Linked DNA regions of Homo sapiens. The protein of the gene in region 2 purifies or fractionates together with the protein of the main gene of each other region. This does not show direct contact. Each region holds a gene or a part of one and is shown on either strand. Other genes may lie near its edges. The genes, in order: INTS2, FPR1, THADA, CIP2A, URB1, DNAAF5 and BRAT1.

Evidence for each region.
Region 1: the proteins of FPR1 (region 2) and INTS2 purify together in Homo sapiens (co-immunoprecipitation; 2 studies listed by BioGRID and IntAct, with this or other methods). This does not show direct contact.
Region 3: the proteins of FPR1 (region 2) and THADA purify together in Homo sapiens (co-immunoprecipitation; 2 studies listed by BioGRID and IntAct, with this or other methods). This does not show direct contact.
Region 4: the proteins of FPR1 (region 2) and CIP2A purify together in Homo sapiens (co-immunoprecipitation; 2 studies listed by BioGRID and IntAct, with this or other methods). This does not show direct contact.
Region 5: the proteins of FPR1 (region 2) and URB1 purify together in Homo sapiens (co-immunoprecipitation; 2 studies listed by BioGRID and IntAct, with this or other methods). This does not show direct contact.
Region 6: the proteins of FPR1 (region 2) and DNAAF5 purify together in Homo sapiens (co-immunoprecipitation; 2 studies listed by BioGRID and IntAct, with this or other methods). This does not show direct contact.
Region 7: the proteins of FPR1 (region 2) and BRAT1 purify together in Homo sapiens (co-immunoprecipitation; 2 studies listed by BioGRID and IntAct, with this or other methods). This does not show direct contact.

The regions. Positions count from the first base shown.
Region 1 is NC_000017.11:61,889,983-61,893,482, forward strand, and holds part of INTS2 (integrator complex subunit 2), read right to left. Parts: intron 1,708-3,500; coding exon 1,531-1,707; intron 1-1,530. UniProt on the Homo sapiens protein: Component of the integrator complex, a multiprotein complex that terminates RNA polymerase II (Pol II) transcription in the promoter-proximal region of genes.
Region 2 is NC_000019.10:51,745,273-51,748,878, reverse strand, and holds the end of FPR1 (fMet-Leu-Phe receptor), read left to right. Parts: intron 1-1,873; 5' UTR 1,874-1,884; coding exon 1,885-2,937; 3' UTR 2,938-3,106; downstream 3,107-3,606. UniProt on the Homo sapiens protein: High affinity receptor for N-formyl-methionyl peptides (fMLP), which are powerful neutrophil chemotactic factors. Binding of fMLP to the receptor stimulates intracellular calcium mobilization and superoxide anion release.
Region 3 is NC_000002.12:43,589,539-43,593,038, forward strand, and holds part of THADA (tRNA (32-2'-O)-methyltransferase regulator THADA), read right to left. Parts: intron 3,353-3,500; exon of another isoform or gene 3,306-3,352; intron 2,879-3,305; 5' UTR 2,855-2,878; coding exon 2,779-2,854; intron 2,509-2,778; coding exon 2,414-2,508; intron 1,417-2,413; coding exon 1,286-1,416; intron 1-1,285. UniProt on the Homo sapiens protein: Together with methyltransferase FTSJ1, methylates the 2'-O-ribose of nucleotides at position 32 of the anticodon loop of substrate tRNAs.
Region 4 is NC_000003.12:108,554,939-108,558,438, forward strand, and holds part of CIP2A (protein CIP2A), read right to left. Parts: intron 2,477-3,500; coding exon 2,280-2,476; intron 1-2,279.
Region 5 is NC_000021.9:32,386,513-32,390,012, forward strand, and holds part of URB1 (nucleolar pre-ribosomal-associated protein 1), read right to left. Parts: intron 1-3,500.
Region 6 is NC_000007.14:761,199-764,698, reverse strand, and holds part of DNAAF5 (dynein axonemal assembly factor 5), read right to left. Parts: intron 2,947-3,500; coding exon 2,803-2,946; intron 894-2,802; coding exon 725-893; intron 1-724. UniProt on the Homo sapiens protein: Cytoplasmic protein involved in the delivery of the dynein machinery to the motile cilium.
Region 7 is NC_000007.14:2,549,025-2,552,524, forward strand, and holds part of BRAT1 (integrator complex assembly factor BRAT1), read right to left. Parts: intron 1,942-3,500; exon of another isoform or gene 1,846-1,941; intron 101-1,845; exon of another isoform or gene 42-100; intron 1-41. UniProt on the Homo sapiens protein: Component of a multiprotein complex required for the assembly of the RNA endonuclease module of the integrator complex.

The DNA.
Region 1 (3,500 bases), on a different chromosome or scaffold from region 2:
ATTCAGCATTGCTGCTCCTAACTCAGGTAAAACAGGAGAAATGTTGCTGTGTGTGTATTAAACTCAAAAAAACAACATGAAATCTGAGATGGCATGAGAGATGAAAGGCAACATGCTTAAGTGGTCTTTAAGATAAGACAAAGAAAAGACTTCAGCTACTACTCAATAGCAAACCCATCAGGCTGCTTCTGAAAGACAGGAGTCCCAAGTATTATATGAAATTACCATGAAAAAAGTAACTCCTAAATAAGACATTGTATACTTAAATATATTTGTGAAAAATGCAACTGTTTTTCCCTTCTAACAAACTGGGGAAAAAATACTTTCATCAAATTTTCCCTGAATGAGCCAGGAGCAGTGGCTCATACCTGTAATCCCAGCACTTTGGGAGGCTGAGGCAGGCAGATCACCTGAGGTCACGAGTTGGAGACCAGCTGGCCAACATAGTAAAACCCTGTCTCTACTAAAAATATAAAAATTAGCCAGGCGTGGTGGCAGGTGCCTGTAATCCCTGCTACTCGAGAGGCTGAGGCATGAGAATCACTTGAACCCAGGAGGCAGAGTTTGCAGTAAGCTGAGATCGTGTCACTGCACTCCGGTCGGGGCAACAGAGTGAGACTCTGTCTCAAAAAAAAAAAAAAAAATCCCCCTAAATGAATGTAGGTGTATCTTAGATTCCCAGGATGCTAAACAAACCTATGCTGAATATCTTGATATCCCACACAGTACTTGATCAAATACACAATCTCCAGGGAACCCATTAGACTTTAAAGTGAAGCTTAAAAAAAAAAAAATTACTGGCCAGGCGCAGTGGCTCACACCTGTAATCCCAGCACTTTGGGAGGCCAAGGCAGGAGGATCACTTGAGGTCAGGAGTTTGAGACCAGCCTACTCAGGAGGCTGAAGCAGGAGAATCGCTTGAACCCAGGAAGCGGAGGTTGTAGTGAGCCGAGACTGCCCATTGCACTCCAGCCTGGGTGTCACAGCAAGACTCCAGTCTCAAAAAAAAAAAAAAAAAAAAAAAAAAAAGGCCAGGCACAGTGACTCACACCTGTAATCCCAGCACTTTGGGAGGCTGAGGCAGGTAGATCACCTGAGGTCAGGAGTTCGAGATCAGCCTGGCCAACATGGTGAAACCCTGTCTCTACTAAAAATACAAAACATTAGCCAGGCGTTGTGGCAGGCGCCTGCAATCCTAGCTACTCGAGAGACTGAGGCAGGAGAATCACTTGAACCCGGCAGACAGAGGTTGCAGGGAGGAGGAGGTTGCAGTGAGCTGAGATCGCGCCACTGCACTCCAGCCTAGGCAACAAGAGTAAAACTCCATCTCAAAAAAAAAAGTGCCTGTTTAGCAAACTACTTGGAACTAATACCATTCTTTTAATTTTTAGAGGTGATCTAAGGAAATTTAATCTAATTTTAAATTCAGAACTACCTAGAAGTCCTCTGATAGGAAAATAAAAATATGGGTTAAGTAAGAAGAACTAAAAGAAAAATAAGTTAATAGATATAAAAGAACCACTATTTTACCCCAATGACTCCTTGGAAAATATTGAGTATCTCCTGTTCTGTGACTGGCTGATTTGTGGCTTCTGGATTAGATTTCGACGCAGGAGTAAGTATAGAATTTATGTACACATCAATCAAAGGAAGTAATTGAGGATGAAGTGGAGTAGAGGTTTCACACAGCTGTCTATAAATCCAATCCTAAGAAAGAATGTTATAGACACTGAATTAATTGTGGCAAAAAGAAAAACCAAGCAAAATTATAAAAGTACATACAGTTTTACATGAATTATGAATCAGTAAAACTCACTATTAACTTTTGGCAGTTCCAAATATATTATCTAGTATCATAACTGCCTTTGATTTTAAAATATGAACTACCATTATATCTGTATCATCTTAGGTGCACCCTCCACTAGAAGCTTGCCTTTCGGTTTAATCTATTAGTTTTTAAGTAGTGGGAAAAACATTTTAAGTCCCTACCATATCTGTATTTAGAGCACCATGTGTGTCGTCATGGGAGAGCTCACGTTAGATAGGAATTTGGAGAGAGAGAGATAGGTCCTTCACAGCAAACCCTCAGATAGACTAAGAAAATGTCTCTGAAAAGCACTTACAGGAGACTTATCACTTAACTATCATTGGATGGAGGACATGTAAAATGTTGGGGGTGCATGTGAACTCTTAATTCTTAGCTATTTTACTTGCTAAAAATATAAAGCAGATGATGCAATCTGGCTGGAAAATAATCTCACTAAATCACAAAAAACAAGCAACAATTAAAAAGTGATATATCATGCATATATTATTCACTGTTCTTTGTAAATATCTGAAAAAGTTTCAGTCTACTTTACCTCCTGGGTCTTAATACCTTCTCTTTAGAGGGCCTTTTAACTTGTTAGATATAGCCAACTAAGACAAATCAAAACATGTCAAAATTCTAAGTTAGGTGTGAGGTGTCCTTATGACAAATCAACAAATACTAGTCATGGCAGCTTCCCCAATTTGTAAAACAAAACCAGGCCCACTGCAGTGGCTCATGCCTGTAATCCCAACACTTCGGGAGGCCGAAGTAGGAGAATTGCTTGAGACCAGGAGTTCAAGACCAGACCAGCCTGGGCAAAATAGCGAGACCCTGTCTCTACAAAAAAACACTTTTTAAAGCCAGGTATGAGGCCAGGCACGGTGGTTCATGCCTGTAATCCCAGCACTTTGGGAGGCCGAGGTGGGTGGATCACGTGAGGTCAGGAGTTTGAGACCAGCCTGGCCAACATGGTGAAACCCTGTCTCTACTAAAAATTAAAAAAAAAAAAAAATTAGCCAGGCATGGTGGCAGGAGCCTGTAATACCAGCTACTCAGGAGGCGGAAGCAGGGGAATCACTTGAACCCAGGAGGCGGAGGTTGCAGTGAGCTGAGATAGCACCACTGCACTCCAGCTTGGGCAACAAAGTGAGACTCCATCTCAAAAAAAAAAAAAAAAAAAAAAAGCCAGGAGTGGTGGCTCGCACCTGTAGTTCCAGCTACTTAGGAGGCTGTGGCAGGAGGACTGCTTGAGCCCAGGAGTTTGAGGTTACAGTGAGCTATGACAGCCTGGGCGACAGAGTGAGACCCTGTCTTTAAAATTAAAAAAAAAAATTAGAAAATGGCAGTTTCTAAGTTTTAATAAAATAGCCATGTGCCACTATTGAGAATTTAAATGGAGTATTATGCATTTTGAAAATCTTACATTGTTTTAAAAATCTGAAATTACTGTATAATTATATAATTATAATTACTATCCCTAATTACTATACTTATATAAATGACTAGTAACTTAGCTTAATACCACACATTTCCTACACAAAACCCACAATAAATGCCTACAAACTGAAATACAACTGGGGAGAAAGCATTAATTTAGGTTGTTCTTTGAAATATAAATGTAGGCCAGGCACAGTGGCTCACGCCTGTAATCCCAGCACTTTGGTCGGTTGAGACAGGCATATCACTTGAG
Region 2 (3,606 bases):
GTCCACGTTTGTGTGACACTAGGTCACTGAAGCTGTCGCCCACTGATTTTCTGATATCTTATGCTCTTATTTTTCCTTTATTAAATTGATGGTAAAATACAAAAAGTTAACCATTTTAGGCTGGGCACAGTGGCTCACGCCTATAATCTCAGCACTTTGGGACGCCGAGGCGGGCAGATCACCTGAGGTCAAGGAGTTTGAGACCAGGCTGGCCAACATGGTGAAACCCCATCTCTACAAAAATATAAAAATTAGCTGGGCATGGTGGCAAGTGCCTGTAATTCCAGCTACTCAGGAGGCTGAGGCAGGAGAATCACTTAAACGCGGGAGGCGGAGGTTGCAGTGAGCCAAGATCGCACCACTGCACTCCAGCCTGGGTGACAGAACGAGACTGCGTCTCAAACAACAATAAAAAAGTTACCCATTTAAATGTACAATTCAATGGCATTAAGTACATCTACAGTGTGTTGCAACCATAACCATTATCTAGTTCCAGAACTTTTTAATCACACCAAGCAAAAACTGCATATTCATTAAGCAACAATTCCCCACTTCCTAGTTTCCCCAGTCCCTGGCAATCACTAATCTGCATTCGGTCTCTGTGAGTTTGGCTACTCTGGATATTTCATACAAGTGGAATCATACAAAATGTGACTTGTGGTGTCTTCCTTCCTTCTCTCCTTCCTTCCTCCTTCTTTCCTTCCTTTCTTTTTTCTTTCATTTTAGAGACAGGGTCTTGCTTTGTTGCCCAGGCTGGAGTGCAGTGGCTCAATCATAGTACACTATTAACCTTGAATTCCTGGGCTCAAGTGAGCCTCCCATCTCACCCTTCTGAGTAGCTAGGACTACAGGTGTGTGCCACCACATCCAGCTAATTTAATTTAATTTTGTTGTTGTTGTTGTTAGAGATGAGGATCTTGCTATGTGGCTCAGGCTGATCATGAACTCCTGAGCTCAAGCAACCCTCCTACCTCGGCTTCCCAAAGCTCTGAGATGACAGGCGTGAACCACCACATCCAGCCCTCTTTTGTTTAGAGTAATGTTTTCAAGGTTCAGCCACGTTGTAGCATATATCAGTGCTTCATTGTTTTTTATGGCAGAATAATATTCCATTGGGTGGATAAACCACATTTTGTTTATCCATTCATCTGTTGATGGACATCTGGGTTGTTTCTACCTTTTGGCTATAGGGAGGAGTGTCTCTATGAACATTTTTGTTTGAATACATGTTTTCTCTATACATCTTTGGCCCCATATTCTCCTCTTGGAGGTCAAGGACCCTATCTTCCTTAGCCATTTAATCTCCCTGGTAGGGGCTTGCATGTTAGCAATTATGAGGATGTGTCATAAGATGCAATCTTGGCCACACGTGGTAGCTCACGTCTGTAATCCCAGCACTTTGGGAGGCTGAGGTGGGTGGATCACCTGGGGTCAGCAGTTCAAGACCAGCCTGGCCAACATGGCAAAACCCCACCTCTACTAAATATACGAAAATTAGCCAGGAGTGGGGTGGTGCATACCTGTAGTCTCAGCTACTCAGGACGCTGAGGCAGGGGAATTGCTTGAACCCGGGAGGTGGAGGTTGCAGTGAGAGATCACGCCACTGCACTCCAGCCTGGGTGACAGAGCAATATTCCATCTCAAAAAAAAAAAAAAAGATGTAATCTTGCCCAACAGGTACAATAAAAGATTGCCAATGTATAGATGTGGGCATGTGTAAGGGACAGTGGTGAGGATGTTCCGGCTGTTGTGGGAGCTCTAGGGGAAGGTGAGAAAGCTAGGAGTGGGAAAACTGGCAGGGGCAGAAATGAGGGGGTGGGGAAATGGTACGGAGGTTCATAACTGAGGAATGACCACGACTGCACTATTTCAGGAGCAGACAAGATGGAGACAAATTCCTCTCTCCCCACGAACATCTCTGGAGGGACACCTGCTGTATCTGCTGGCTATCTCTTCCTGGATATCATCACTTATCTGGTATTTGCAGTCACCTTTGTCCTCGGGGTCCTGGGCAACGGGCTTGTGATCTGGGTGGCTGGATTCCGGATGACACACACAGTCACCACCATCAGTTACCTGAACCTGGCCGTGGCTGACTTCTGTTTCACCTCCACTTTGCCATTCTTCATGGTCAGGAAGGCCATGGGAGGACATTGGCCTTTCGGCTGGTTCCTGTGCAAATTCGTCTTTACCATAGTGGACATCAACTTGTTCGGAAGTGTCTTCCTGATCGCCCTCATTGCTCTGGACCGCTGTGTTTGCGTCCTGCATCCAGTCTGGACCCAGAACCACCGCACCGTGAGCCTGGCCAAGAAGGTGATCATTGGGCCCTGGGTGATGGCTCTGCTCCTCACATTGCCAGTTATCATTCGTGTGACTACAGTACCTGGTAAAACGGGGACAGTAGCCTGCACTTTTAACTTTTCGCCCTGGACCAACGACCCTAAAGAGAGGATAAATGTGGCCGTTGCCATGTTGACGGTGAGAGGCATCATCCGGTTCATCATTGGCTTCAGCGCACCCATGTCCATCGTTGCTGTCAGTTATGGGCTTATTGCCACCAAGATCCACAAGCAAGGCTTGATTAAGTCCAGTCGTCCCTTACGGGTCCTCTCCTTTGTCGCAGCAGCCTTTTTTCTCTGCTGGTCCCCATATCAGGTGGTGGCCCTTATAGCCACAGTCAGAATCCGTGAGTTATTGCAAGGCATGTACAAAGAAATTGGTATTGCAGTGGATGTGACAAGTGCCCTGGCCTTCTTCAACAGCTGCCTCAACCCCATGCTCTATGTCTTCATGGGCCAGGACTTCCGGGAGAGGCTGATCCACGCCCTTCCCGCCAGTCTGGAGAGGGCCCTGACCGAGGACTCAACCCAAACCAGTGACACAGCTACCAATTCTACTTTACCTTCTGCAGAGGTGGAGTTACAGGCAAAGTGAGGAGGGAGCTGGGGGACACTTTCGAGCTCCCAGCTCCAGCTTCGTCTCACCTTGAGTTAGGCTGAGCCACAGGCATTTCCTGCTTATTTTAGGATTACCCACTCATCAGAAAAAAAAAAAAAAGCCTTTGTGTCCCCTGATTTGGGGAGAATAAACAGATATGAGTTTATTATTGACTTCTTTTTTGATTTTGGACCTCAGCCTTGGGTGGTCAGGGTGGGAAATGATAGGAAGAAGCTGTCATCTGCATCCTAGTTTGCCTGAAATGAACCCAAATAATACCCATTATTATTAGTCCTGAATTATGAGTAGTGAATGATACCCATCATTCTGGCATCATGATGAGTAGTGTCCACTTCCATTCTGAAAAGTGCCCTGCTGTGAAAAATAAATTATATAGTCATCCTAGGTAAATGAAGGAGGAGGGAGAAGTGTGAAAGAGTATGGCTTAAATCAGACAAGATATACAAGAAGATACTTTATATAGGGCAGGAGCGGTGGCTCATGCCTGTAATCCCAGCACTTTGGGAGGCCGAGGCAGGCGGATCACCAGGGGTCAGGAATTCGAGAACAGCCTGGCCAACATGGTGAAACCCTGTCTCTACTAAAAATACAAAAATTAGCTGGGCGTAGTGGCAGGCTCCCGTAATCCCAGCTACTCAGGAGACC
Region 3 (3,500 bases), on a different chromosome or scaffold from region 2:
ATGAATACACTTAACAATAGCGAACTATGTACACTTAAAAATGGTTAAGACTCAAACATCATATGTTCTCACTCATAAGTGGAAGCTTATCTATGAGGATGCAAAGGCATAAGAATGATACAATGGCCTTTGGAGACTCAGGGGAAAGGGTGGGAAGGGGGTGAGAAATAAAAGACTACAAATTGTTGGGTACAGTATACACTGCTCAGGTGATGTGTGCACCAAAATCTCAGAAACCACCACTTATTCATGTAACCAAGTACCACCTGTTGCCCAAAAACCTATCGAAATGAAAATTAAAATTTAAAAAAAAAGAATTCATAAAAAAAAAAGGTTAAGACTGAGTTTTTATGTTATATGTCTTTTACTACAATTAGGATTTTATGACATGGAAATATCTCTAAGACATTCTTTAGTGAAAAAACAAGCTACAGAGCATTCTGTAGAGTATAATCTCGTTTACAGATATATATAAAAAAAGTAGAATGTAACACACATATGCTGACCTCAAAGAGAAGGTCTAGAAAGATAAATACCAAAACGGTAAGTGACAATCTTTACTAAGAAAAGTAAGATAAGCCCTAAACAATGAAATGGAAGCCTTAGTTTTTATTTTGTATAGTTCTATATCATTTGAAATTTTTATACCAAGCCTATATTCCTGTGTTATCTGTGTAAATATATATTTAAACCAAGAACAGATAGGACAAAAAGAGGAAAAAACAGCAAGATGACATTTAAACATAACCAATAAATGTAAATGGATTGAGGCAGGAGTAAGCAAACTACAGCCCACAGCCTGTTTATTAAGCATGTGACCTAAGAAGGCTTTTTATACTTTTAAAAAGTTGTAACTAGGCTGGGCGCAGTGGCTCACACCTGTAATCCCATCACTTTGGGAGGCTGAGAAGGCGGATCACAAGGTCAGGAGATCAAGACCATCCTGGCTATCATGGTGAAACCACATCTCTACTAAAAACACAAAAAATTAGCCGGGTGTGGTGGCTGAGGCAGGAGAATGGCGTGAACCCGGGAGGCAGAGCTGACAGTGAGCCAAGATCGCACCACTGCACTCCAGCCTGGGCGACAGAGCTAGACTCCGTCTCAAAAAAAAAAAAAAAAAAAAAATAGTTGTAACTAATCAATGAAACAGAGAACAAACCATATGAATGAACTTTTTGTGATCTGTATCAGTTCAGTTTTATCAAACCAAGGAAGGAACTTCAGTTACTTTTGGTCAAATTCAACATTTATAACACCCAACTTCCCTTCCTTTTTTTCTTACCTTGCCAATACTTTCTTCAAGGGATTCTTTAGACTCAAAGAAAGATAAATGCCTGCTAAGATATCCAAACAACTTTGAATAGTGGGATCACACATGCCATTTTTATCTGCTTTCTCCAGCAGAGGCACAATCTATAATACAAAACATTGAAGTAATTTTTATAATATCAAATATAGCAAAGTAACATGGTTACAGATACTCTTTGAAGTCTCAATTGCTGGGTACAGTGGCTCACCCCTGTAATCCCAACACTTTGGGAGGCTGAGGTGGGCAGATCGCTTGAGCCCAGGAGAGTTCGAGACAAGCTCGGGCAACATGGTGAAACCCTGTCTCTACAAAAAAATACAAAAATTAGCCAGGCATGGTGGCACATGCCTGTAGTCCCAGCTACTCAGGGGGCTGAGGCAGGAGGATTGCTTGAGCCCAGGAGGTTGAGGCTGTGGTTGAGCCAAGATCACACCAGTGCACTCCAGCCTGGGTAAGAGAGTGAGACCCTATCTCAAAAAAATAAATAAAACAAAGTGTCAATTACGTGAAATGTTTTCCATACTCCACTGTCAAGGATACTGATTTAAACACCTATTTCACTATTTATTAACTTTTTAAACTCATGTCCCCACCTCCCTCTTTACCCTCCAGACCCACCTCCACAGAGAATCACAGACCTGTTAATGGCTTACAGTAAAGAACAGCTGTAGCACTATTAAAAAACCAGTAATACATTTACTTGCTTTCCAAAAAAAAAAACTATGTGTGCTCAAATGGTAAATCCTAATACTGAAATACTAATAAGTATAATCTTTATATTTTAAATTAACTTTTAAATGTGTCTGCTAAAAAGTTTTGAAGATTCATATATTTTAAAATTTATCTCCACAAAAGAGGTATGCACATTATCTTCTACCTTATCTGTTTACAGTTCAATTATGATAGAAGTCTGAATATGGCTTCTATTGCTGCTTTGAATACAAGGATATTATACAATAAACAGAAAAAAAAAAATACTTATTTGCTAATGATAAACTGATATGCAATAATTAGGGACCAAAAACTGTCAGTGATTTTTTTTAAATCCTTAATAGCATGATACTCTTAAAGATGCATCCATGAATATCAATTCAGACTTACCTGTTTAATATAATGGATTTGTGACACTCCATCCGTGAGTTGCACACAATGTAACAGCAAAGAAGCTAGATTTTTCCCTTCCACATCAGCAAAAGCTATATAACATATACAAAAAAAAATTTTCAATGATTTAACAGTGAGTTAACTTTGCCTTTGTTGTGCATTCTACAAAATTTTTTAATTATAAACCATAGCAATAGGTGGAACATAGTCTGAAGACAGAATTTTAAGAAAATTGTTTTACATCCAAAACATAAGGAAAAATATAAAGAATTTGAATATTATATGCTAGGGGTCCCAGTCATTAAAATACTCTGCTTGCAAACTAGAAAAAAATATAATAAGGGAAACCAGAAGTCACCTACATTTCAAAGTTTCAAGGTCCTGATGGCAAATGGTCAGCGCAGCAACTTGCATTTCTTTCTTCTTCTTTACACCCATTTTAAATAGAATTAATAGTAGTCACTGCAAGAAAGAAGACTTTAAGGCATTAATGTAAGGTTTCTCAACCTCAGCACTATGATTTTTGGCTGGGTTCATTCTTTGTTGAACAGTATCATCCTATGCATTATGTTTCATGCATCCCCATCTCTACCCACTAGATGCCAGTGGCACCCTCCTCCCTCCCAAGTTCTGACAACCAAAATATGTCTCCAAACACTGTGAAGTGTCCCCTGGGGAGCAAAACTGCTCCAGAATGAGAATCACTGTCTAAGAATTTCTGATTTGAAGAAGAAAAATGTTTTAAGCTGAAGCTTATTACTGACTGAAGTTATTTTACCTACTATGACTCAGTCTTTGTATTTTAAAATACAGCAAACTTTCCTTTTAGTGAACATACACACAAAAAAACTGGGATAGTTTTTCCAAAGATAAAATACTTCAAACTAACCTCAGTGACTCATTAGACTAAGAGGAGGTACTACCGTGTCCTGATTTCTGCAAAAATGAAAAAAAATATTTTTTTAATGCTATTCTCTTGAGTTTGCTTTTATCGATACTTAACAAATCAACGGGTTCATAACAGGCTAAACAACCCAACTCAGAGACTACACAACTACACACTAATAGTACCATGCCATCTGGA
Region 4 (3,500 bases), on a different chromosome or scaffold from region 2:
TATTTCACTAAGCACAAAGATTTTTAAAAAGCAACCCAAAAACCAAACCAAAACAAACAAAAAAAACCAGTAGCCAAACTTGGCCAGCAGTTTTTGTATCTAATCCATACAGGAATTTTAACAATCTGAGTTTGAGTGCCTTTAGACAGTCCTGACCATTACAAATGACCTTTTCCCCAGCCAGCTTCATTTACATGTTATCCACTTGTCCATTCAAGGAATTTCACCTTCTAGCCCCTAAATCACTAGCTGGAACATAAGCAGGTCTTAGAAACCACGTATTTTTCTTGGACGCTGCCTATCTCTTAGGTTCTCTATGTGAGACAAAGCAGGTATCCCCTTTTTAGGAGGTCTGAGGACCTCAAGCTGGAAAATAAAGGAAAATCCTGAGTTCACTCAAGGGAAATTCCAGGGACCTAGATAGCCCTAGAAGTAAATAAGTAACTTGTTAAACAGGAAGGTAATAGTAGCCTAAATCAAAGTTAACAAACTTAAGAGTACCAGTGATACTTGATTCTTTATAGAACTTAAAGAAAACAACTTAACACATGTCCCTGAGTTGTATTTCAGAGACCCGGACCCTCATTGAGGAAGCCCACTGACCAGATCCATTGACAAGTAGAGCTCAGGTAAGGAGAAAATGAAGGCTGAATTTTAACCACTGTTCTTTGTTCTAAGTTTCTTTCTCAGGGTCTTGAACAAAGTCACTCTCCCTAGCTAGTTAACATTTTTCTACTGACCCCAAATGTTTAAACAAAGCTGCTCTTCCTTAACCAACTGCAAATCGAAAAATCTTTGGGTCTACCCATGACCTGTAAGCCCCTGCTTCACAATATCCTGTCCTTTAAACTTAAACCAATGTATAACCTTTAACTATTTATTTATGATTTTTGTCTGTAACTTCCACTTTCCTGAAATTTACTCGCCTTTAAAAATCCTTGCTTGCAAGCTATTGGGGAGGTCAGTATTTGAGCATTTGGCTGCCTGCTCCTCCTTACTTGGCACCCTGCAGTAAAAGCCTTTTTTTCTATCACTGCAAACCTTGGTGCAGATACCTGGTTTTACTGTATTGAGCAAATGGAACCCATTTCAGTTCTATAACGTATTTTCTTCACTGCTGACGTTCTCAACTTGGCTTATCACTAATACTACACTTTATCAGTGGTGCCTCAAACAATCAGACTTTGTAAAAAGTTGCTGGGGTAAATATCCTGTTAAAAAATCACTTTGTCATCATTTTCTAGATACTATTCATTTCTCACCCTTCATTATTATTGATGGGAAATAAGCATATGTACCATGCCAAGCTAAAAATTTCTATATCTCTGTATTAACAACATAGAACAATCTTAAAATATAAAGCAATAAACAAGTTCCCCCAGAGTGTATTTACTTTTATGGGTTGGTAGAAAATACATAATTGTTCCTGGTCTTCCCTGTAATTCAGAAGTTTTACAACTGGCCTAAAAAGATAAAAGAGTTTATAAGGGAGGAAAAACCAATCAAACTTTGCTAGTAGGCACACAAATTGGTACAGGTTGAGCAACACTAATTTGAAAATCCAAAATCAGTCTAAAATCAAAAGTGCTCCAAAATATTAAACTTTTTGAGTGCTACCATTGTGTTCAAAAAGGACACTCAATCTGTATCACATTTTGGAGGAAAATTTAGAAATATCTATCAAAATATTAAATATACATACCCTTTAACTTAGCAATTCACCTATGTGAACTTATTCTACAGATGTAATCACACATGGAAGTAAACTATAATCAAGGATATTAAGAGATGAGTTAAACACTTACACCTAAATTTCCATTCTATTAGGCAGAATGATATGAAATTGCCAATATTCAACTACTTTTGATCTGCAGAAATGACCATTCAACCTAATACTAATTTGACAACTAAGTTTATTTAAAAATTATTAATGAAGTGCCTAACTATGCAGCAAGCACTCCTACAGGCCCTAGGGATCTGTCAGTGATCAAAACAGACAAACTTGTCCTTGTGGAGCTTATCTCCCAAATGACTGCTGACTGTTATGAATACATAAAAGAAGTCAACTGGAAAGACCTGTATTTTGTTTCCAACATTGATACTGAGTTTGAGGAAGCAACACTTCATTTCACAATGACTTAAGTTTCTTGCTAATTACTTACCTCATGTGTTATCAGAATATATGAAATGCTTACAAAAGGATTTTCGGGTCTCAGAAAAGAAATGCTGCATGTTCATTCTAGGTTCTAACCTTACACAGAAGATTTTACTTTATTTACCTCTGAAGAAGTTCCATGTAGGATTTTGTCAGTATTTCATGTTCTTCAGCCACAGACTCTAACTTCCTATTATGTTGAAAGAGATGCTCAATATCACTCTGCGCTCTTTCTGATTCAACTTGCTGCGCCTTCAGCAACACACTAAGCTCTTCATTTTTTCTCTCAACTTCTCTCAACATACTAGCAAGTGTCCGTGCCTCAAAAAAAAAAAGAAGATAGACTTTACCACTATCATCTATATCATATGCTCAACACATACCTACAATTTAAAAGTTTACTAAGTATCTAATAAGCTGGTATCTGTTGGGTCATGCAAAGCTGTATTAGTCACATATACTTAGGACTTTACTTCTAATAAGTTGGATACTGTTATATTTTTTTAACTTAATACATTATCTGATAAAAACAATCTCACTATGATCAAATTAATGGAAATGGATACAACTGCAGCAACATGAAGGTCGCGCTACATACAGTATTCAATTAAAAAGGTATGGTCCTCAGAGGTAGCCATTAACACTAAACTGCTAAGTGTGCACACCATCAGCATTCTCATTTCAGGTGAGAATTAAGAACAAAATCTTAACGACATCACAGATGCTTAATCAAACACTTAAAATTAAGCTAGTATAATCAAAGAATGTAACCTATACCATAACCTGCATGTATTTATTATGTGATATGAAACACTAAAAAAGCAGAAAAGTCGCTAGAATAAAAAGTTGGTTCCCCCCAGCCCTTTGGATTTTATTTTACAATGCTAGACAAAACCCTAAGCCTTTCTCTGTTTTTACGACTTTGTGAAGAACCTGTATCCAGTTATTTAGTGCTATTTTTATAAGAACTTTTCCAGTAACATGAATAAAATATTAAACTCTCTAATAAAATACAAGACATGTCCAACAGACAGAAAATATAAGAATGTGCTATGGGGAGAGGGAAAAATTATTTTAATATCACTAATGTTCTTTCTTGTAATTTGTGACAAATTCAACATACCAGTTAAGACAAATGAAACCATGTTAAAATAAGCAAAAAAGAAAGAAATATGGGGGAAAAAAAGAATACCATTATTCTGAAGAGACTTAAGAGGCATTTTACTAGTCACTTATTTTGATGCATCTTTCAAAAGCCAGGAACACTTTATTATAATTCATTCATTATAAATAATATCAAGTTGTATAGATTCCATTTGTATCTGCTGGGAATTTCATATTACTG
Region 5 (3,500 bases), on a different chromosome or scaffold from region 2:
GATTAATCCACAAGGACATTATGAACACACTTAGAAACCATGAAGGCAATAAGGAATGAGACAAACTGAGTGCCAATGTGACTCCCAGGTTTGACTACTGAGTCTGGCAATGACTCGTCTGGATCCCCATAGAGCTTTTGTTCCCTCAACTGTAGAATGGGTATAACAAGAAAAACCATATAGAGCATGGTAACGAAACATTACCAAGAGCTTTACTTACATGACATCAGCTAATTCTCACTGCAACCCTCCACCCTAGGTATGAGTATTTTTTTCCCTAGGTACTAGTATTTCACAGATGAGAAAACTGAGGCCCTTGTCCAAAGGTACACAGCTTAGGAGAGGTAGAGCCAGGACTCCAATCCAGGCAGTCGGGCTCCAGAGCCCATATTCTCCCTCCACGAACTGGATGATTCCTGCTCATGCAATGGAGCTGATGCCTGTTGCTCTGAGTGCACTGGCACACAGAGTGTCCGTGCTGCACCTGGCCCACAGTCAGTATGCCAAGCATCAGTTGACATCAGTGCTCTTTCAAAACCCAAAGGAGGGCACCCCACTAGAGTGTTTCCCCATAAGGCCACCCCAGAAGTTCCCCACTCAAAAATCTCCCCTCTCAACAGCCTGAGGATTCTACTACCCTTCCTGCAATTAATACAACCTCCCCTCCCCTACCACTGACACCTGAATCTGAACCCCCACCACAACCCCACCCTACCAACTGGGAGCCACCTGTGTGCCGCTGCCCACAGAATTCTCCTGCCAGAACCTGTTCTATAAAACTGCCTTTCAGAGAATCACTTGAACCTGCCTCTCGGAGAATCACTTGAATCCGGGAGGTGGAAGTTGCAGTGAGTCGAGATCGTGCCACTGCACTCTAGCCTGGCAACAGAGTGAGACTCCGTCTCAAAAACAAAACAAAACAAAAAAAACCCTGCCTCTCTCTGGTTCCACTCTTTGGGCCATACTTCTCAAAACTAGGAAGGCAGGGCATGGCAGTGGGTTGGAAGCCGCATGAGAGCGTAAGCTAAAGGTAACACATCTTACTGAGGCCTTCATCTCTTCTGGGGAGTGAAGACTTCACCTTATTCAAAAAAAAAAAAAAAAAAAGCAGAGGAAGGGACTAAATATTTCTATTAAAACCCACTTAGTAATGACCAATACAGTAAAATGTAAAATGCCACAAACTTTAAGAAATACACTACAGTCTTCATAGACACATCAGAATAGCGTGGTCTGCTTTAGGGAGTGTCTGGGCATCCCTAAGGGGTCCTTCCTTCTCTGCCTTGGGGCCACAGGCAATGGATCTAATCCTTCTTTCCCACACCAGCTGCCATCACCCTAGTCAGCACCTCTGAACACCAAACACTTCCTTTAACCTCTCTCCAGAAATGAGAGTTTCGAGATCCTTCTGTGTTCAGGTCACTCTCTATGTTCCCTTGAAGCATGAGGCCCAGAACAGGGCTTGGTACTGCAGGTGAGCTCCACTAGCTGAGCAGAGAGGACCAACACATGCTTCCTCTTGGACAGCAATTCTGCGTGTCTCAGATTCAAGTCCTGACGCTGCTAAGCCACATCTGCCGGGGACGCATGAGCACGCCATTACACCAAAAACATACCAGAAAAGAACAAAATTGGAGCCAGACTCCTGGGCACAAATCCCCGCTCAGTCACTTACTAGCTGCATGGTACTCAGTAAGGCACTGAACTCTGAGCTCTGGGTACCTCACCTGTATAACGGAACAAGAACAGAACCTACCTGACAGGGTTTGTATGAAGCGTAAAAAGGCTAATTTACACATAAAGCATCCAGCATCACACTTAGGTCAAGGTAAACCCTCAAAACATAAGCAGCCCCCCGGGTGTCCTCAGCAGCAGCAGTGAAAATCCAGTCACATTCGGCCTCTGCCAGCCTCACAGGTGTTTTCAGATCCCCTTTTATGCTGCAACATTTTCCGCAGCAACCACCGCCATTCCTTTAACAGTCACTGAGCAAGTGCATCTGCTATGCCAGGCGCTGCTCTGAGCTTCGGGGCCAGACTCCATTGCTGCCGTCTGCAGCGTGGTCTGGTGGTGATTATGAGCAGGCCATGGGTGTTCTGACCAAGGTGACTGTGAGTTACAGGAGCTCAGTCGGCACAGGCACCCTGGAGTTATGCATACCTACTCTGTCCCTCAAGAAAACACAGAATGCAAGTGATAGCAAGGGCTGTTAATACAGAAAGAGCAGTGCAACTACTCACTCTTTTTTAAGGAATTATTCGTCAAACTCTAGCATGTAACTCTGAGCATTCCAGAGTATTACAGGGTGGAAACTGCTGGCCTGTTATGTTTGCCGTCTTTACAGGTTCATCTTTCCATACACCATTTACTGGGCACCTACCAGGTGCACCTACAGGGGGTGCCCGAGACGTGCTGATGAGCAAATTAGAAATGGCCTCTACCCACATGGTCCTTACAATCTAATGATAGAGACCAATGTGAGTATTTATTAAGCACCTACCGCAATCACTTACATAGACACGTATAGCACCTGTAGTAAGTGCTATGAAGCAAACATCAAGAGTATAATGAGGACTGTACCTAGGGAACATGATCTAGATTAGAGGGTTGGGAAGGTTTCCTTTGAAGAAGTAATGCTGAACCTATTATTAATAATAGTAAACGTAAGTATTGAGGGGGCAGAGGGTGAGACCACATTCCAGGCCCCAAGGCTGGAGGGTACACTGGAGCCAGGTGAGTGGGGAGGGGTGACTGAGTGAGTGGGGGAGGGCAGCCTGAGATGAAGTCAAAGAAGCAGGCAGGGCTAGATGAAGCAATGGAAATGACTTTGGATTTTATCCTAAGGGCAGTGGGATACCACTGAAGGGTGTCATGAGAGGAGTGACATAATCAGATTTGGAGCTCTGAAGGATCATTTGACTGCTGCACACAGCACGGGCTGCAGGGAAGCAACAGCAAGAGAGACCAACTCTGGGCAACTCCAGCCACGGTCCCAGCAGGGACTGATGATGCCTGGACTAGAATGATGATGAAGGAAAGAGGGGGAGCAGACAGATTCCAGAAATTCTCAGGAGGAGAATCAACCACCAAGGCCAGGGGACAGACTGATGCAGACGGAGGGTTCTGGCAGGAACATCCAGCTAATCAGAATTACCACTTATGCAGTGGGGAAACCAGAAGCAATGTGGGGAGAAGGAGATCAAGAGTTTAACCATTAGTGTACTCTCTTACAGTATGGCCTTTTCTCTATCACCAGTGGAGTCGTGGGCAAACACTTTCAAAGGAACTGGCTTAGAGCCAAACCCTTCTTGATGGGGGATCTTCCCACAGGCTGACACTGATCCACTCTGGAATATCCTCAGTCCTTACCAATCTAACCTGGCAGCTCTTGTTCCTCCACTACACGAAGGGAGCATCATCAGAACCCTTCCCTCACATGCCTGGTGAAAACAAAGTCTCCTAACAGCCATCAACTTCACTTCCCTGATCTTCCAGCAATC
Region 6 (3,500 bases), on a different chromosome or scaffold from region 2:
TGAGTCCCTACCAGGCACAGAGATTGTGTAAGAACGATCTTAGCATCCTCAGATGCAGAGCACGACCACCCTGGTGCACACATCCAACAGGAGGCGGGGGCACTCGGAGCTGCAGGCGGGAGCGGGAGGGCCGGGGAGGCAAACGAGGAAGAGCTACCGCGGCGAGTTCACGGCCCGTGGAGCAGCGCGGGCCGTGTGTCCCAAGGCACTATGGCTGCTGAGCGGACGTCTCCTTAGGGTTCTGCAGTGGATCTTGCCCCGCGCTGAAGCCCCACTGGGCCACACTGTCCATCCCAGGAAAAGTGGCTGATCCGCAGGCTCAAAGAGAACCACAGAAATGCTGGTCTCAGAGGGGCTGGGGCTAAGGCCCCCATGTCACACACACAGCACCCATGCGGCTAGACATCTAGATTCTGCAACAAAATCCAGACGTATTTAAGAAGCCAGGCTACAAAACAGGCCACGGAAAAGCACACTTTGAAGGTTTCACATGAAAGCGTGTGCCCGGGCCAAGTGGAAGAGCTGCGTCCCACAGTCTTCAATGCGATGCTCCTTAAAATGCTGCTTCTCCCCAGGCAAGAGTGACTATTGGGTACTTTTAACAACACGCTTCAGTGAACCACAGCTCAGCTGGTCGGCGCTGGTACCTGCTGAGCACCTGGGGGAGCAGGTGTGTAGCCTGAGTGGGGCCAGGCACGGCACGCCAGCTGTCGGGACGGCTCACCTGACTGTGCGACGATGACACTGAACTGCAGGAGCTCCGGCGAGTGTGCGGTCCAGTCAAGGTGCGACGCGGTCACCCGCTCCAGGAGGGGACCAATGTGCTTGCGGTAGAGGTCCTGGCAGCTGCTGACACCCTCCACCATGGCCAGTGAGTCCATCGTCTCCTGTGCCTGGAGGTTACAAGTCAGAGACTGAGACAATTCCAACACTCAGGGCTCAAGCCTGCCTGCCTGCTGGGACTCACTATCCCCCTCACGCGTAAGAACCACACAGGCCGGGCCTGCCAGGATAATCGGGAGGGAGGCTGCCACAGGGAGCCCCGCCCAGGGTGCAGGAGAGCGAGAGCCGCGGGTGCAGGGCGAGACCCTGATCCCGTTCACACCAACGCCGTCTCTGCAGCGAATCATGAAGCAGGCACTGTGCACACTGGGATGCACACAGCACAGGTGGTCCTGGGGCTTACACGGACGTGGTGTCCGCCTGGGCAGGCAGGGCTCCTCTGAGGTGGTGAGGAGCAGAGAGGGGCGGGCAAGTGGCTTAAAGAGTTAAGCCCAGCAGACCAGACCTCCAGGTAAAAGTAACTGGGCAGACAGAGATGATAACCTTGGCCACCTTTTACTTTTAGCTGGCTGCTCTCCTTGGGGGCTTAGGAACAGAGGAAGGGCTGAGGCTCCCCGGTGGCCATTGCCCCAAGCCTGGAGTCTGAATCTGGGGCTACCTGGCTTCGTCCCCCATGACCAGCAGGCAAAGACTTTGCTTTTGCTGGTACCTCAGGCCCTAACAGTGACAGCATCTGCTGAGACACACGCCCCTTGGGAAGCTTGTTTTTAGAGGCCCCAAGAAGGAAGGGGAGGGCAGCAGCCTCCTCCACACCAGGTTCCCCATAGTACATTCAGGCCGTAAATCTCCCAGAGAGAGAATCTGCCGAGAGGGGCTGTCCACAGAGACAGAATGGGAGGAGGAACTAAGTCTCAGCTTCCAGAGAGGCAGACAGATACTGGGGCCTCCAGGGGCCCTAGAAGCCCATTAGAAGGTTGGGGTTAAAAGATTTTTGGGCATAATGGCCAGGTGCGGTGGCTCATGCCTATGATCCCAGCCCTTTGGGAGGCTGAGGCAGGTGGATCACCTGCAGTCAGGAGCTTGAGACCAACCTGGCCAACGTGGCAAAACCTTGTCTCTACTAAAAATATAAAAATTAGCCGGGTATGGTGGTGGGCGCCTGTAATCCCGGCTACTCAGGAGGCTGAGGCAGGAGAATCACTTGAACCTGGGAGGCAGAAGTTGCAGTGAGCCGAGATCGCGCCACTGCACTCCAGCCTGGGTGACAGAGCGAGACTCCACTGAAGAAAAAAGATGATTTTTGGGCATAAACAGGGAGCCCATGGGCGAGAAGTACTTCTGAACGCTGTGCTGCAATGAGAGCGGGAAATCACGGTATCTTCTCTCGACTCAGTCACACATGCACATGCACTTTTTTTTTTTTTTGGACGGAGTCTCGCTCTGTTGCTCAGCCCAGGCTGGAGTGCAGTGGCACGATCTTGGCTCACTGCAACCTCTGCTTCCCTGGTTCAAGCAATTTTCCTGCCTCAGCCTCCTGAGTAGCTGGGACTACAGGCACATGCCAACACGCCTGGCTAATTTTTTGTATTTTTAGTAGAGACGGGGTTTCACCATGTTGGTCAGGCTGGTCTCAAACTCCTGACCTCAGGTGATCCGCCCACCTCGGCCTCCCAAAGTGCTGGGATTACAGGCGTGAGATGCCACGCCCAGCGACATGTGCACTATTAAACCCTACTCAAGTGCGCAGGTTTAAAGGTTACGTCTTATTTCTTGTTTGCTTCTTTGCTGAAGACCCTAACATTAAACAGCTGTCTCCACTCCCTGATGCCAGAATACACTGGCAGCTGGAGAGCTGCCCCGAAGGCCGTTGCCCGGGGACTCACCCGCAAGGTTCTCAATCCCTGGTCTTTGCTGGTCAAGCACAGAGGGGATGCATAGGAGACAGTTCACCTCACTTAGAGATGCCTTCCAGCTGTGAGCTCCGCTAGGTCAAGCAGCAGCCACCACTGTCAGCCTTACCTTGTCCCTCAGGCCGGTAGCACCTGCGAGGGCCACTATTGTCAGCAGCACGTCCAAGAGCTGCAGGCTGGCCACGCCACAGTCCTCATGACACACAGACACCAGAGCCTGCACACACAGCAGCAGGCGCTCCAGGTAGAGGTCCTGGAAGAGACCGGCAGCACCGTCAGAGCTTGGTACAATTTGGTCGTGTCCCCACCCGAATCCCATCTTGAACTGTAGCTCCCATAATCCCCACGTATCCTGGGAGGGACCCTGTGGGAGGGAACTGAATCATGGGGGTGGGTCTTTCCCGTGCTGTTCTCTTGATATTAAGTCTCACGAGATCTGATGTTAGTATAAAGGGCAGTTCCCCTGCACACTCTCTCGCCTGCCGCCACGTAAGACGTGACTTTGCTCCTCCTTTGCCTTCCACCATGATGGTGAGGCCTGCACAGCCATGTGGAACTTTGAGTCCATTAAGCCTCTTTTTCTTTATAAATTACCCAGTCTGTGGTAGATCTTTATTAGCGACATGAGAATGGACTAATACAGGGCTCCCGCTCCGGCCCCAGTGTCAGGGCCGACAGAGCCCGCCCGGGGCTCCTAGTCTACGGCTCACGAGGGGCAGCAGCCATGGGAGAGCCCTTGCAGGGAGAGCCCCCAGGCGCTGGAGGTAGGGTGCCGGCATGTCAACCATAAAAGGGCGTGCTTGTTGA
Region 7 (3,500 bases), on a different chromosome or scaffold from region 2:
TGTTGAAGGGTTTTGAAACAAAACAGAATTAAAATACTAACGACAATAATAGAAGGTTGTGATGGCCTGAAGTTCAAGTGCTCTGAGGTCCTTCGGTTGCCTGGATAGAGAATGGAAAGTCTAATTAACTTCAGACTTTTTAAAAAATCCGGTTCTCATGTTAAAAATATAAGGGTAGCCACTGAAGAACACAAATAAGCCTGTGGTCCCAGCATCTTGAGAGGCCGAGGTGGGCAGATTGCCTGAGCCCAGGAGTTTTAAGACCAGCTTGGGCAACACAGGAAGATCCCCTCTCTATAAAAATTCGCTGGGCATGGTGGCGCGCATCTATAGTCCCAGCTACACTGGAAGCTGAGATGGGAAGATCACCTGAGCCCAGGAGGTCAAGGCTGCAGTGAGCCGTGATTACACCACTGTCCTGGACAACAGCACAAGAACTTGTCTAAAAAGAAGAACATAAATAGAATGTATAACTTCAAAACCAGAAGAGGAAAGATTTAAAAGAAAAAAAAAAGCTTTATCAATCTGATGGAGGGCAGAAAAGGAGGATAAAGGCACAAAGGTAAGGCACAGGAAATTAAAAAATACAAAAGAATTCAAATCTAACAGTCGCCTCAACAAATTAAAGAGATCAAACTTATCTGTTAAAAGAAAGAGTTGCTGAGATTAAATTAAACACTAAAAACAAGCAATGTGGTGTTTCTAAAAGCAATAAAATGCAACGACAGGAAAGGCTGGGAGCAGGAGAGAAAAGACACAGTAGGCAAATTCTAACTTTAAAGAAGCTGATGTAGCAACAGAAATAGCAAACAAAATGGGCTGTAAAGCAAAAAGCAGTATTCATGCAGAAGTAAGTTAACTGATCACGGAGATAAATTCCAGAAAGACACAACATTCCTACATCTATGTATACCTAACCTCACTTCAAAACGTGTAAAGCAGCCTGGGCAACGTGGTGAAACCCCGTCTCCGCAAAAAAATACAAAAAATTAGCTGGGTGTGGTGGTGTGTCCCTGTAGTCCCAGCCATCCAGGAGGCTGGGGTGGGAGGATCACTTGAGCCCAGGAAGTTGAGGCTACAGTGAGCCGTGATCACACCACTGCACTCTAGCCTGAGTGACAGAGTGAGACCCTGTCTCCAAAAAAAAAAGAAAAAAAAAATGCCAGGCACAGTGCCTCACACCTGTAATTGCAGCGATTTGAGAGGCCAAGGCGGGCAGACTGCTTGAGCCCAGGAGTTTGAGACCAGCCTGGGCTACATAGTGAAACCCCGTCACTACAAAAAATACAAAAACTTAGCCGGGCGTGGTGGCGGGCTCCTGTGGTCCCAGCTATTAGGGAGGCTGAGGTGAGAGAATCATCTGAGCCCAAGAAGTCGAGGCTGCAGTGAACCGAGATCATGCCACTGCACTCCAGCCTGGGCAATAGAGCAAGACTCCATCTCAAAAAAAAAAAAACAAAAAAAAAAAAAGAAAGAAAAGAAAAAGAAAAAAATAATATGTAAAGCGAAAAAAAAAAAAAGGATGCATCTCAAAGAAAAATCATGAATCCATGATCTTGGTGTAAGCTTTTTACACACCTCTCAGAAACAAGCAAACAAATTAGCAAGAACATAGCAGGTCTGAACTAATGAACGAGTGTGGAAACTACACTCTTTCCATCAAGTACAATGCAGGAGAAATGACAGAGGCTGGGAGGGAGGAGGAAACAGGGACTCACTGTGAACCCAGACTCGGTTTCTTTAGGGGGAACAAAATTAGATTGTGCTGATGATTTCAGAGCCCTGTAAATTTACTAAGAACTGTTGAATTGGTACCATTTATTTATTTATTTTGTCCATTTCTCATGTCAGACGGGTCACGTACCGACATCATACCAGGGTTCCATGGTGCCACATCTCACACATGCGCCTGAACACTCAATTATCATGCTTAGGTTGGGTGCAGTGGCTCTCCACTGTAACCCCAGCACTTTGGGAGGCCAAGGTGGAGGGATCACCTGAGGTCAGGAGTTCGAGACCAGCCTGGCCAACATGATGAAATCCCACCTCTACTAAAAATACAAAAATTGGCCGGGCATGGTGGCATGCACCTTTAATCGCAGGTACTCAGGAGGCTGAGGCAGGAGAATCGTTTGAAACCCAGGAGGCGGAGGTTGCAGTGAGCCAAGATTGTGCCATTGCACCCCAGCCTGGGCAACAGAGCAAGACTTGGTCTCAAAAAAAAAAAAATCTATATCTATATATATATCTATATATAGATATATATATATCTCATGCTTACAAACTGTAAAAGGATCTGGTACACCTTAAATGGGAGAATGGCATGGTATGCAAATTATATCTCAATAAAGCTACTGAAAAATACTTCTTAAAATTTAAATACAGGCCAGGCATGGTGGCTCGCTCCTGTAATCCCAGCACTTTGGGAAGCCCAGGCGGGAAGACTGCTTGAGCCCAGGAGTTCCAAGCTGGCCTGGACAAGATGGTGAGACCTCATCTCTATGGGAAAAAAAAAAATAGCTGGGCCTGGTACACACCTTGATCCCAGGAACTCAAGAGAATGAGGCAGGCGGACTGCCCAGGAGGTCAAGGCTGCAGTGAGCCGTGTTCACGCCATTGCACTCCATCCTGGGTGACGCGCAAAAACCCTGGCTCAAAAAAAAAAAAAAAGAAAAAGAAAAACTGACTACTACAAACTAGGCCACAGTTGAAGACCTTCAAATACCAAAACATCAAAATCATATAGTGAAATCTCTAGAACATTGAGAAAACTCGCCTGGGTCCTATGTCTCAATAAAAGTCTCAACAGCTATAAAGATTCAAAACATATGTTATGTTTTCTAACCTCCACAAAGTAAATTAAAAATCAATAATAAAAAGACTGGAAAAATCCATATTTTGAAACTAAAGGATACTCTTTTAAGTAACTTGTGGGTGAAAAAAAAATTATAATGAAAAGCATAAAATACTCAGAACTAAATTAAAACCAAAGTACTGCAATGTAAAACGTGTAAGATGTAGCTAAAGTCATACTTTTAGAGAAATGCATAGTCTTAAATATATATATATATATATATATATATTTTTTTTTTTTTTTTTTTTTTTTTTTTGAGACAAGAGTCTCACTCCATTGCCCTGGCTGGAGTGCAATGGCGTTATCTCGGCTCACTGCAACCTCTGCCTCCCAGGTTCAAGTGATTCTCCTGCTTCAGCCTCCCGAGTAGCTGGGATTACAGGCATGGACCACCATGTCAGGCTAATTCTTGTATTTTTAGTAGAGACGGGGTTTCACCATGTTAGCCAGGCTGGTCTCCAACTCCTGACCTCAAGTGATCTGCCTGCCTCAGCCTCCCAAAGTGCTGGGATTATAGGCATGAACCACCGTGCCTGGCCTTAAATATATATATTAGAAAACAAGGAAGACCTAGATATTTAGCTCAAAGAGGGTAAAAGGCACTTTGGGAAGCAGAGGCAGGTGACTGCCTGAGCCCAGGAGATCG